2 separate regions of the Homo sapiens genome follow, and region 1 is linked to region 2. The links come from fine-mapping of genetic effects on gene expression. A gene starts in region 2. The other region holds a variant in brackets. All regions are shown on one strand. Distances are from middle to middle.

Region 1 (5,367 bases), 130 kb before region 2:
CACGGGTATACAGCAGCCTCTGCCCCCAGTTGTTTTCCTAAAATACAAAATCTCCCAATTCACAAACACAGCTGTCCCCAGGGATTTCAGATGAGGGATTGGGGACTGTCCTATCCCCAGGAAACTGAGATGTGGACCAGGGAGTAAAACTCAGGCTTCCGGGCCAAACTGCTCTCTGCTCGTTTCTAGCCAGGTAGTCTTGGACTGATCACCTCTGTGGGCGGCAAGCCACCCAGGTGCCGAGGCAAGAGACCGAGGGCACAAACTGTTCCAGTATAATAAACAAAATATATAGAATAAGAATAGTTATACAAGAAATAGAATATAGATATGATTATATATGAATATTATTAATCATTCGTTAGTTTGTAGCATTACTCTTTATTCCAATATTAAAATAATCTCTGTTCTACAATTATAACCTAGGAAAAACCAGGCCATACAGAGGTAGGAGCTGAAGGGACACAGTGAGAAGTCACCAGAAGACAAGTGTGAGCCCTCTGTCATGCCCGAACAGGGCCACTAGAGGGCTCCCTGGTCTAGCGGTAACGCCAGCGCCTGGGAAGGCACCCATTACTTAGCCGACCTGGAAAGGGAGTCTCCCTTTCCCCAGGGGAGTTAGAGAAGACTCTGCTCCACCACCTCTTGTGGAAGGCCTGACATTAGTCAGGCCCGCCCGCAGCCATCCAGAGGCCTAAACGTGCCCCTGTGATGCTGTGCTTCAGCGGTCACGCTCCCGTTTACAACATCAGTCATTGGATTTAGGGCCCACTCAGATAATCCAGGATGATGTCATCTCAAGATCCTTAACTAAGTAACACCTGCAAAGACTCCTTCCAAACAAGGTCCCATTAACAGGTTCCGGGGGCGAAGGCATGGATATATCTTTTTGTGGGGAGCCTGTAGTTCAACCCACTACAGAAGGAGGAAAGATGAGAGCTATGGTTCTCAACAGAGGCCACATGGACTTCAAAGATGAAAGTGTTTACCTCCTAGTCCTCTACAGACAAGAGGCACAGAGCCCTGGACTAGAGCTTCTTTCTTTCTTTCTTTCTTTCTTTCTCTCTCTCTCTTTCTTTCTTTTGTCTTTCTATCTTCCTTCCCTCCTTCCTTCCTTCTCTTTCTTTCTTTTCTTTCTTTCTTTTTCTTTTTTTTTGAGACAGAGTCTCACTCTGTCGCCAGGCTGGAGTGCAGTGGCGTGATCTTGGCTCATTGCAACCTCCTCCTGCCGGGTTCAAGCGATTCTCCTGCCTCAGCCTCCCAAGTAGCTGGGACTACAGGCATGTGCCACCATGCCCAGCTAATTTTTGTATTTTTAGTAGAGACAGGGTTTCACCATGTTGGCCAGGATGGTCTTGATCTCTTGACCTCATGATCCACCTGCCTTGGCCTCCCAAAGTGCTGGGATTACAGGCATGAGCTACCGCGCCCCGCCCCTTGTTTCCTTTTTATTGTTGAGACAGGGTCTCAGTCTGTGGCCAAGGTTGGAGTGCAGTGGCACGATCCCAGCTCACTGCAGCCTTGACCTCCTGGGCTCAGGAGGGAGAGGCTCCCACCCCAGCCTCTCGAGTACCTGGAACCACAGGCGTGTGCCACCACACCTGGCTAATTTTTGTAGAGACAGGGTTTTGCCACATTGCCTAGGCTGGTCTTGAACTCCTGGGGTCAAGCTATCTTCCTGCCTTGGCCTGCCAAATTGCTGCGATTACAAGCATGAGCATGAGCCACTGTGCCATACCTAGATCTGCTTGCATTTATTTATTTATTTATTTATTTAGACAGGGTCTCACTCTATTGCCTGGGGGCTGGAGTACAGAGGCATCATCTCAGTTCCCGGCATCCCTGACCTCCCAGGCTCAAGTCATCCTCCAGCCTCAGCACCCTCAAGTAGCTGGGACTACAGGTGCACCACCATGCCCAGATAATTTTTGTATTTTTTTGTAGAGGGGGTTTTGCTATGTTGCCCAGGCTACTCTTGAACTCCTGGGATCAAGAGATCTGATCGCCTCAGCTTCCCAAAGTGCTGGGATTACAGGTATGAGCAAATTTGCCCTGCCTAGATCAGCTTTCTTACATGGGGTCCCAATAGAGTTTCAAGAGTAAAATGAGAGGCAGAAGGAAACTAAAGATACTCTTCAGGCCAGGCACATTACAGCTGTAATCCCAGCACTTTGAGAGGCTAAGGCGGGAGTATCGCTTAAGACCAGGAGTTCCAGATCAGCATGGGCAAAAGAGTGAGACCCGACCTCTACAAAAAAATTTAAAACTAGACGGGCATGCTGGCATGCACCTGTAGTCCCATCTACTCAGGAGGCTGAGGCAGGAGGATCCCATGAGTCCAGGAGGTCAAGACTACAGTAAGCTATGATTGTACCACTGAACTTCAGCCTGAATGATAGATTGAGACCCCGTCTCTGAAAAATAAAATAAAATGAAGACATCTTTGAAACTCACACATTTCACCACATTCTATTTTATTTATTTATTTTTGAGACGGAGTCGTGCTCTGTCTCCCAGGCTGGAGTGCAATGGCACGATCGCAGCTCACTGCAATCTCCGCCTCCCGAATTCAAGCAATTCTCCCACCTCAGCCTCCTGAGTAGCTGGGATTACAGGCACCTGCCACCA[T/C]GCCCAGCTAATTTTTGTATTTTTAGTAGAGACAGGGTTTCACCATTGTTGTCTAGGCTGGTCTCGAACTCCTGACCTCAAGTGATCCGCCTGCCTCAGCCTGCAAAAGTGCTGGGATTACAGGCTGAACCACCGCGCTTAGCCCATTCCACCACATTTGATACGTCAAAGCAAGTCATGAAACCTACCTGGATTCAAGGGGGGGCAGAACTAGTCTCTACCCTTTGACAGGGTTGGAGTTGGAGATGCAAAATATAATATCCATGACTTTCAGCCTTCTACACCTACACATCTACAATCTTAAGGTGTGGGTGGTCCAGACAGAATTCAGGAGGATGGAGAAAAAAAAATACATTTTCTTCTTCTTCTTTCTTCTTCTTCTTCTTCTTCTTTTCTTCTTCTTCTTTTCTTCTTCTTCTCCTTCTCCTTCTCCTTCTCCTTCTCCTTCTCCTTCTCCTTCTCCTTCTCCTTCTCCTTCTCCTTCTCCTTCTCCTTCTCCTTCTCCTTCTCCTTCTCCTTCTCCTTCTCCTTCTTCTTCTTCTTCTTCTTCTTCTTCCTTTCATTTGAGATGGAGTCTCACTCTGTCGCCCAGCCTGGAGTACAGAGGCGCGATCTTGGCTCACTGCAAGCTCCGCTTCCCGGGTTCATGCCATTCTCCTGCCTCAGCCTCCCCAGTAGCTGGGACTACAGGTGCCCGCCACCATGCCCGGCTATTTTTTTTTTGTATTTTTAGTAGAGACAGGGTTTCACCATGTTAGCCAGGATGGTCTCGATCTCCTGACCTCGTGATGCGCCTGCCTTGGCCTCCCAAAGTGCTGGGATTACAGGCATGAGCCACCGCGCCCAGTCCCCCCATTTTGTTTTGTTTTGTTTTTTTAGAGACAGAGTCTGACTCTGTAACCCAGGCTGGAGTGCAGTGGCGTGATCTCAGCTCACTGCAACCTCTGCCTCCCGGGTTTAAGCGATTCTCCTGCCTCAGCCTCCTGAGTACCTAGGATTACAGGAGTGCGCTACCACACCCAGCTAATTTTTGTATTTTTTTAGTGGAGATGTGGTTTCATTATATGTTGGCCAGGCTGGTCTTGAACTCCTGACTTTAGGTGATCCTCCCGCCTCGGCCTCCCAAATTGCTGGGATTACAGGTGTGAGCCACTGTGCCCGGCCCATTTCATTAGCCTCTAACTGGAATTCATCAGGTCCTCTCACTGTGAATGCAGACATTGGCTAGCCCTGGAACTTTGTCCCCTGTGGAAATCAAAGATAATTTCATATCACATCCTGATCATAGGAGACACCCTAAAATATCACAGATGCTCACCCTGACTTAGACCTTGAAGTAACTAGTAGAGTCCATGTGAATCAATGTGATTTAATATATTTATGAAAAGGTGTGGCCAGTTGCATGCTCATGCCTGTAATCCCAGCACTTTGGGAGGCCGAGGCTGGAGGATTGCTTGAGCCCAGGACTTGGAGGCCAGCCTGGGCAACATGGCAAAACCTCATCTCTACTAAAAATACAAAAAATTAGCCAGACGTGGTGGCACAGAACTCTAGTGCCAGCTAACAGGGACGCTGAAATAGAAGGATCGCCCGAGCCCTGGAGGTCAAGGCTGCAGTGAGCCATGATCACACCACTGCACTCCAGCCTGGGCACCTTGACAGAGTGAGACCCAGTCTCAAAAAATATACATACAAAAAAGTCAGATATTAAATTTTTTTATTTTTATTTTGGAGACAGAGTCTCACTCTATCCCCCAGGTTGGAGTGCAGTGGGACAATCTTGTCTCACTGCAGCCTCCGCCTCTTGGGTTCAAGCAATTCTCCTCCCTCAGCCTCCCAAGTAGCTGGGATTACAGGCATGCACCACCACGCCTGGCTAATTTTTGCTTTTTTTTTTTTGAGATGTAGTCTCGCTCTGTTGCCCAGGCTGGATGGAGTGCAGTGGTGCAATCTCAGCTCACTGCAACCTCTGCCTCCCAGGCTCAAGCAGTTCTCCTGCCTTAGCCTCCCGAGTAGCTGGGATTACAGGCATGTGCCATCACGAGCCGCTAATTTTTGTATTTTCAGTAGAGATGGGGTTTCACCATGTTGGCCAGGCTGGTTTCGAACTCCTGACCTCAGGTGATCCGCCTGCCTCAGCCTCCCAAAGCGCTGGGATTACAGGCATGAGCCACCACACCCGGTCTAATTTTTGCTTTTTTTTTTTTTTTGAGACGGAATCTCACTCTGTCACCCAGGCTGGAGTGCAGTGGCGCGGTCTCGGCTCACTGCAAGCTCCACCTCCCGGGTTCACGCCATTCTCCTGCCTCAGCCTCCCGAGTAGCTGGGACTACAGGTGCCCGCCACCACACCCGGCTAATTTTTTTTGTACTTTTAGTAGAGACGGGGTTTCACTGTGTTAGTCAGGATGGTCTCGATCTCCTGACCTTGTGATCCACCTGCCTCAGCCTCCCAAAGTGCTGGGATTACAGGCGTGAGCCACCACACCTGGCCAATTTTTGCATTTTTAGTAGAGATGGGGTTTCTCCATGTTGGCCAGACTGGTCTCGAACTCCTGACTTCAGGTGATCCACCCACCTTGACCTCCCAAAGCTTTGGGATTACAGGCGTGAGCCACCGTGCCCAGCCTATTTTTTATTTTTAGACACTAGGTCTTGCTCTGTCACCCAGGATGGAGTGCAGTAGTGCAGTCATTGTAGCCTCAACCTCCCAGGCTCAAGTGATCCTTCCATCTCAGCT
Region 2 (5,342 bases):
AACCCAGCCGTGTCGCTCAGCAGCACAGGAAATCCGGCCAGGTCGACTGGGGTCTCCAGCACGTCACGGGTGGTCCCTGGCTCCGGGGACACGATGGACACAGGCTTCCGACCTGGGGGAGGGTCAGAAGAAGAGGAGAGGGTGGAGACAAGGGAGCTCCTCCCCCAGGTTCTACCCCATGTCTGGAGGGAGCTTTAGACCTGAACAACTAACTCAATAACCCAGCTCTTGGCCCCGCCCCTGGCACTAGGCCCCGCCCCCTTCCCGCCGCCTACTCACTGAGCAGGTTCACTAGGCTGCTCTTGCCCGCATTGGGGGGTCCAGTGACCACTACGTGCACCCCTGAGCGGAGCCTCTGCCCGCGCCTGGCATCTCGTAGATGTGCACCCAGGGCCACCTGCAGTGCCCGTACTTCGATGTCGGCTGTGGGTGAGAGAAGGCAGGCAGAGAGAGACAGTGAGGGGAGCCTTTGAGGGCTGATATGAGGTGTCTTCCTCCCCCACCACCAGGTAGACCCACCTTGCTCCAGGACCCCCTCCTCCAGGTTGTCATCCTCGCCGAAATCGATATAGGCCTCCACGTGGGCCAGAGCCTGGCGGGGCAGGGAGAGCAGAGGTGGTGTGTGCACCCAGAAACCCACCTTCCCACACCCAATTTGTCCAGCCCGACTTCAGGGGCCAGAATGGCGGCTCATAGGCCGGAAGCTTTCACGCAGGGAATGAATGCGGGATTGAGAGGGGGTCTCATGCAGGGGTTGCACAGATGGGGTCTCTGAGGGAGAGAATGGACAAATGGGGGACTTGCTTTGGTGAGGGTCTCGGCCCAGCCACGGCAGAGGTGGCCCAGCTCTCCGTCCAGCTGCCTGAGGGCCTGCCGCCGCTGCGCCTCTGTTTCCGCGTGGATAAGGTCCGCCAGCCCCTCCACTTCGGTCAGGTTCAGCTTCCCATTGGCGAACGCCCGTCTGGTGAACTCGCCTGCCTCCGCCGGTCGAAGCCCTGGCACGCTGCCTGCAGGAAGGTCCCAGTCTGACACCCCCTGGTCCCCACCCAGGCCCATTGGGAGGACCAAGCATCTCACCCAACGCTGCAACTCACCCAAGGCCTGCAGGACGCCGCTCACCACTGCCGGGCCTCCATGCACGTGGAACTCCACGCAGTCCTCACCGGTGAAACTCTGGGGACCTAATGTGACAGACAGGTGACAGGAGGACAGCACAGCCAGTGCAAACCCTTGGAAGGGGGAAACTGAGTCATGGGACCTACAGGAGGCTCGGAACCTGGGGACCCTCACCTGGGAACCAGAGCACCAGTGCGCGGTCCAGAGGCTCCCCGGAGCGGGGATCGCTGAGCAGGCGCAGGCTGGCGTGGCGAGCAAGGGGCAGGTCTCGGGGTGCTGTGAGAATTCGGAGGGCGTGGCCGCTGGCGGGGCCGCTGGTCCGGATCACTGCGATGCCGCAGCGGCCTTGGCCAGAGCTTAGCGCGAAGATGGTGGCGCCGGAGCCGGGGGCTGGTGCGCCGCTGCTCCGGCGCGTGCACAATCTGGAACCGGAGGGGAGGCGAATCAGCGCACCTGGGAGGCTCAGCCTCAGTGTCAAGTAGACCGAGGGCTCGATGATCGCGAGATGCTCCAGGTGGGGGGGTTCTGCGGCTGGGGGATGCACAAATTGGATGTTCTGAAGGCCGAAGGGTGACCGGATTAGGGACTGTGAGGCCAGAAGGAGACCCAGATATGGGCTCTGCCGCAAGGGTCATGAACGATTGAGGCACGGAAGAACGCGAATGATTGCTCTGCCGCAGGGAATTGGGCCCCTAAAACCCAGGGAGTGGGTCTGGGGTCCAAGCAGCACCCCAAGCTGTCGCACCCCTTCCCCTGTAGCCCCACCTGCGAGGCCCACGTGCCGCTTGGGCCGCCAGGGTCCAAAGCCCCCGCCACATGGATTTACAACCTGCGACCCGCCTGCCCGACCTGCCTGTGTGGCTTCAAGTCTGGGCAGGGGGCCCCGCCCACTCCGCGGCTTGACTAGTAAAGTGCTCAACTATTCTCGACCACCATTGGGTATCTTAGGATACGTCCTGCCCACCGTCTGAAGATACTCGCTTCCATTGGCTGGTGCAAGGGAGAGCGGGAGCGGGAGGCGGTATGGAGGTAGGTGTAGCGAAATGTTGTTCCCCGGGCAACATGAGACCAAATTTTTAGGGTCCTAGCGCAGCGAGGCTGACAATAGGAATAAGGAATGGAAGAAAGGACAGAGTTTGGCACAGGGCAGTGCAAATTACAGCGAGGGGAGGTTTTGAGTCCCGCATTTTCCATCTGCTCACTCCGCAGCCTTAGGCGTGGCAAGGACCTATGTGCGTTCAGTTTTCCCGTTCAAGAAAGGAGGGACTACACCTCTTTACGTTCAGGTTCAGACCGGAAACTCAGAGCATCTCGGTGACCGGGAGGGACGAGTACTGGAGAACCCACGCCCTGATCCAGGGAAAATCTTGCCCGAACTTCTGGAAAGAGTCCTACTTGCTTTTTCCGGAACTCTCCAGATTCTCTCCCCTCCCCAGCGTTCCCTTCTGCCGTTCCCTCGGCTTCGGATGCCCTTCCTCATTTGACAAACTCGTCTTCAAGGCCTAGCTCCAAGATCCCCTCCTCCAGGAAGTCTTCCTGGAACCCCCAGCACAGCCCTCTCTCCACTGTGGACTTCCTTGGCTCTCTGTCTCTCTGGTCCAGGTCTGCACCTGCAGAGCCAAGTGTCCGGTCAGTCTCTGGCTCCCCGAAAGCCAGAAAGGGGAGCCTCGGAGATTGCTTTCAGGTTAACCCAGGACAGCACTGAAACTCGGAATAAAGCGCTGATGGTGGAATTCCAGGCACTGGCTGGGCGGGGTCTCCGGGAGCGCCTTCGCATGGCGGATTCTCTGGTTCTGGATCAGAGCGGGCGGGCGGCGCACTTGCGTGTTAAGAAAAATCTGTCTGACAGAATAGAGTTCTAATACCCCCTTACCTCGCCCTGCTCAATATTTTTATTTACTTTATTATTTTATTTTATTTTATTTTTGAGACAGGGTCTCACTCTGTCGCCCAGGCTGGAGTGCAGTGGCGCGATCACGGCTCTTGCAACCTCCAACTTTTGGGCTCAAGGGATCCGCCCGCCTCAGCCTCCTGAGTAGCTGGAACCACAGGCGCGAGCCACCATGCCAGTCTAACTTTTCGGTGTTTCTTTTTGTTTGTTGTTTTTGTTTGTTTGTTTTGTTTTCGTTTTTTTGGTGGAGACGGGGATCTCACTACGTTGCCCAAGCTTTTTTTTTTTTTTTTTTTTTTTTTTGAGACGGGGTCTCGCTCTGTCGCCCAGGCTGGAGTTCAGTGGCGCGATCTAGACTCACTGCAACCTCCGCCTCCCAGGTTCAAGCGATTCTCCTGCCTCAGACTCCCAAGTAGCTGGGACTACAGGCGTGCGCCACCATGCCTGGCTAATTTTTTGTATTTTTAATAGAGACAGGGTTTGGCCATGTTGGTCAGGCTGGTCTCGAACTCCTTGCCTCAGGTGATCTACCCGCCTTGGCCTCCCAAAATGCTGGGATTACAGGCGTGAGCCACTGCGCCCGGCCGAGGCTTTAATATTTTAAGTTGTAAAATAGGAACAAATGATGACATATTTATATTTCATCTGCCATTCTCTAGTTGTTACATCTGTAACAAGCTAGTTATTACATCTGTAACAAGCTAGTTGTTACATCTGTAACAAGCGTACAGCAAGCGCCTACTGTGTGCTCGCATTGAGAACCAGACCTGGCCCCTCGTTCCTACCCTCGCTGGGCTTTCAGTCTAACAGACTGAGCTACTCAGAATAGTCAGGGGTTGGCCAAATGCCAGGTAAAACCCAGGTCGCCCAGCTAAATGTGAATTTCAAATAAACAATGAATAATTTTTTAGTACTAGTATGTCCCATGTAGACATAGGACATAGAAACATTTATGTATGTATGTATATATATGTATTTGAGACAGGGTCTCGTTCTGTCGCCCAGGATGCAGTGCAGTGGGTGTGATCTCAGCTCACTGCAGCCTTGACCTCCTGAGCACAAGCGATTCTCCTGCCTCAGCCTCCCAAGTAGCTGGGATTACAGGTGCGCCCCGCCCAGCTAACATTTATTCTTTTATCTGAAATTTACATTTAACTAGACGGACTGTATTTTTATTTGCTAAACTTGACAACTCTATGGGATCCTCTCCGAGGTTACATCCTGAAGGGAGTCGGTGTTAACCGGACGAAGAGTGCATGAGGAGTGTTCTAGGCAGCCAAATGGTGCGTGCAAAGTTCCTAAGCAGGGCTTGCTGTAATTATGTATCACAGCCCTACTGGGGTGGTTGAAGTTATTGTCACCAGGAATCTTCCCCAACCGGCCCGCCCCTCCCACGTCCTCCCTTAGTCAACTTACGCCCATCTCACATTCCAAACAGCGTCTCCAGGGTCCGGAGTTTGCAGATGGGGAAACTGAGGCTCCGAGGCGGGGACCAGAAGAAAGCATGGGTGGGGACAAGTTGGAGAATGCACCATCAGTGCGGGCGGGGACCAGCAGCAGGGAGCGAGGTAGGCGGGCGAGAAGGAAACCCAGAAAACAACACGGGCGGAGACGCGAACCAAAGAACTAGGCGGGCGAACTCAGCTGAGAACCCTAGAGTGACGTGCATCGGGCCGGGAAGGAGAATCGAGGTTCGGCTCGGGCGGGGACGAGAAGCAGCGCTCGGGCGAGCGAGGACCGAGGCCGGCGCGGGCGGGCGCGGCCTTTGTCTCCTCCTCCCGCGCGCTCCGCGGCTGCACCGGCCCCATGAGCCCGCGGCTCCCCGTCGCCCGGGCCGTCCGTAGCCCCTGACCTGACCTGTCCTCGCCATGGCCGAGGCCGCCTCCGGCGCCGGGGGCACGTCCCTGGAGGGCGAGCGTGGCAAGAGGCCCCCGCCGGAGGGCGAGCCTGCAGCCCCGGCGTCCGGAGTTCTGGGTATGTGTGCGGCGGCTGGACCAGACAGGGTTGCAGGTGCCTGGGGAGCCCGCGTCAACTACACGGGGAGGAGGATCAGGGTCAAACGTAACCTGGCGTGGTGTCTGGACGAGGGGCCGGCTCCTCCCGGCACTGCGGCTGCGGCCCGGCGGGCGGGGCTGGGACGGTGCTTCGGGCTGGGGTCCCGGCGCGGAGACGCGGACACGCCCCTCCGAGAGCCCCAGGCTTGGGCTGCGCCCTGCCACCCCCGGGCTGCGGGATCGCGGCGGGCCAGGGATGTGCTTGAGAGAGCCTCTCCGCGAAGAATACAGAATCATACGGTCCTGGGTTCAAATCCCAGCTTGACTGTGTGACCTTGGGC

Evidence for each region.
Region 1: its variant is fine-mapped to the expression of GTPBP3 in cerebral cortex (GTEx, PIP above 0.99).

What each region holds. Positions count from the first base shown.
Region 1 is chr19:17,461,590-17,466,956 of GRCh38, reverse strand. No RefSeq gene overlaps it. Among named protein-coding and RNA genes, the nearest start is that of NXNL1, 3.3 kb to the right of the region's middle. RefSeq lists an enhancer at 420-469. The variant T/C (reference allele first, on the strand shown) is at 2,629.
Region 2 is chr19:17,334,204-17,339,545 of GRCh38, reverse strand. GTPBP3 (GTP binding protein 3, mitochondrial) reads right to left here and starts at 1,993. Exons shown (of 9, transcript NM_032620.4): 1 at 1,882-1,993; 2 at 1,291-1,538; 3 at 1,095-1,181; 4 at 805-1,007; 5 at 520-592; 6 at 280-423; 7 at 1-112. The coding sequence starts at 1,934. It overlaps ANO8 (anoctamin 8), which reads left to right and starts at 4,691. Exons shown (of 18, transcript NM_020959.3): 1 at 4,691-4,981. The coding sequence starts at 4,876. RefSeq lists enhancers at 1,009-1,680, 1,681-2,352, 2,353-3,024 and a silencer at 4,749-5,188.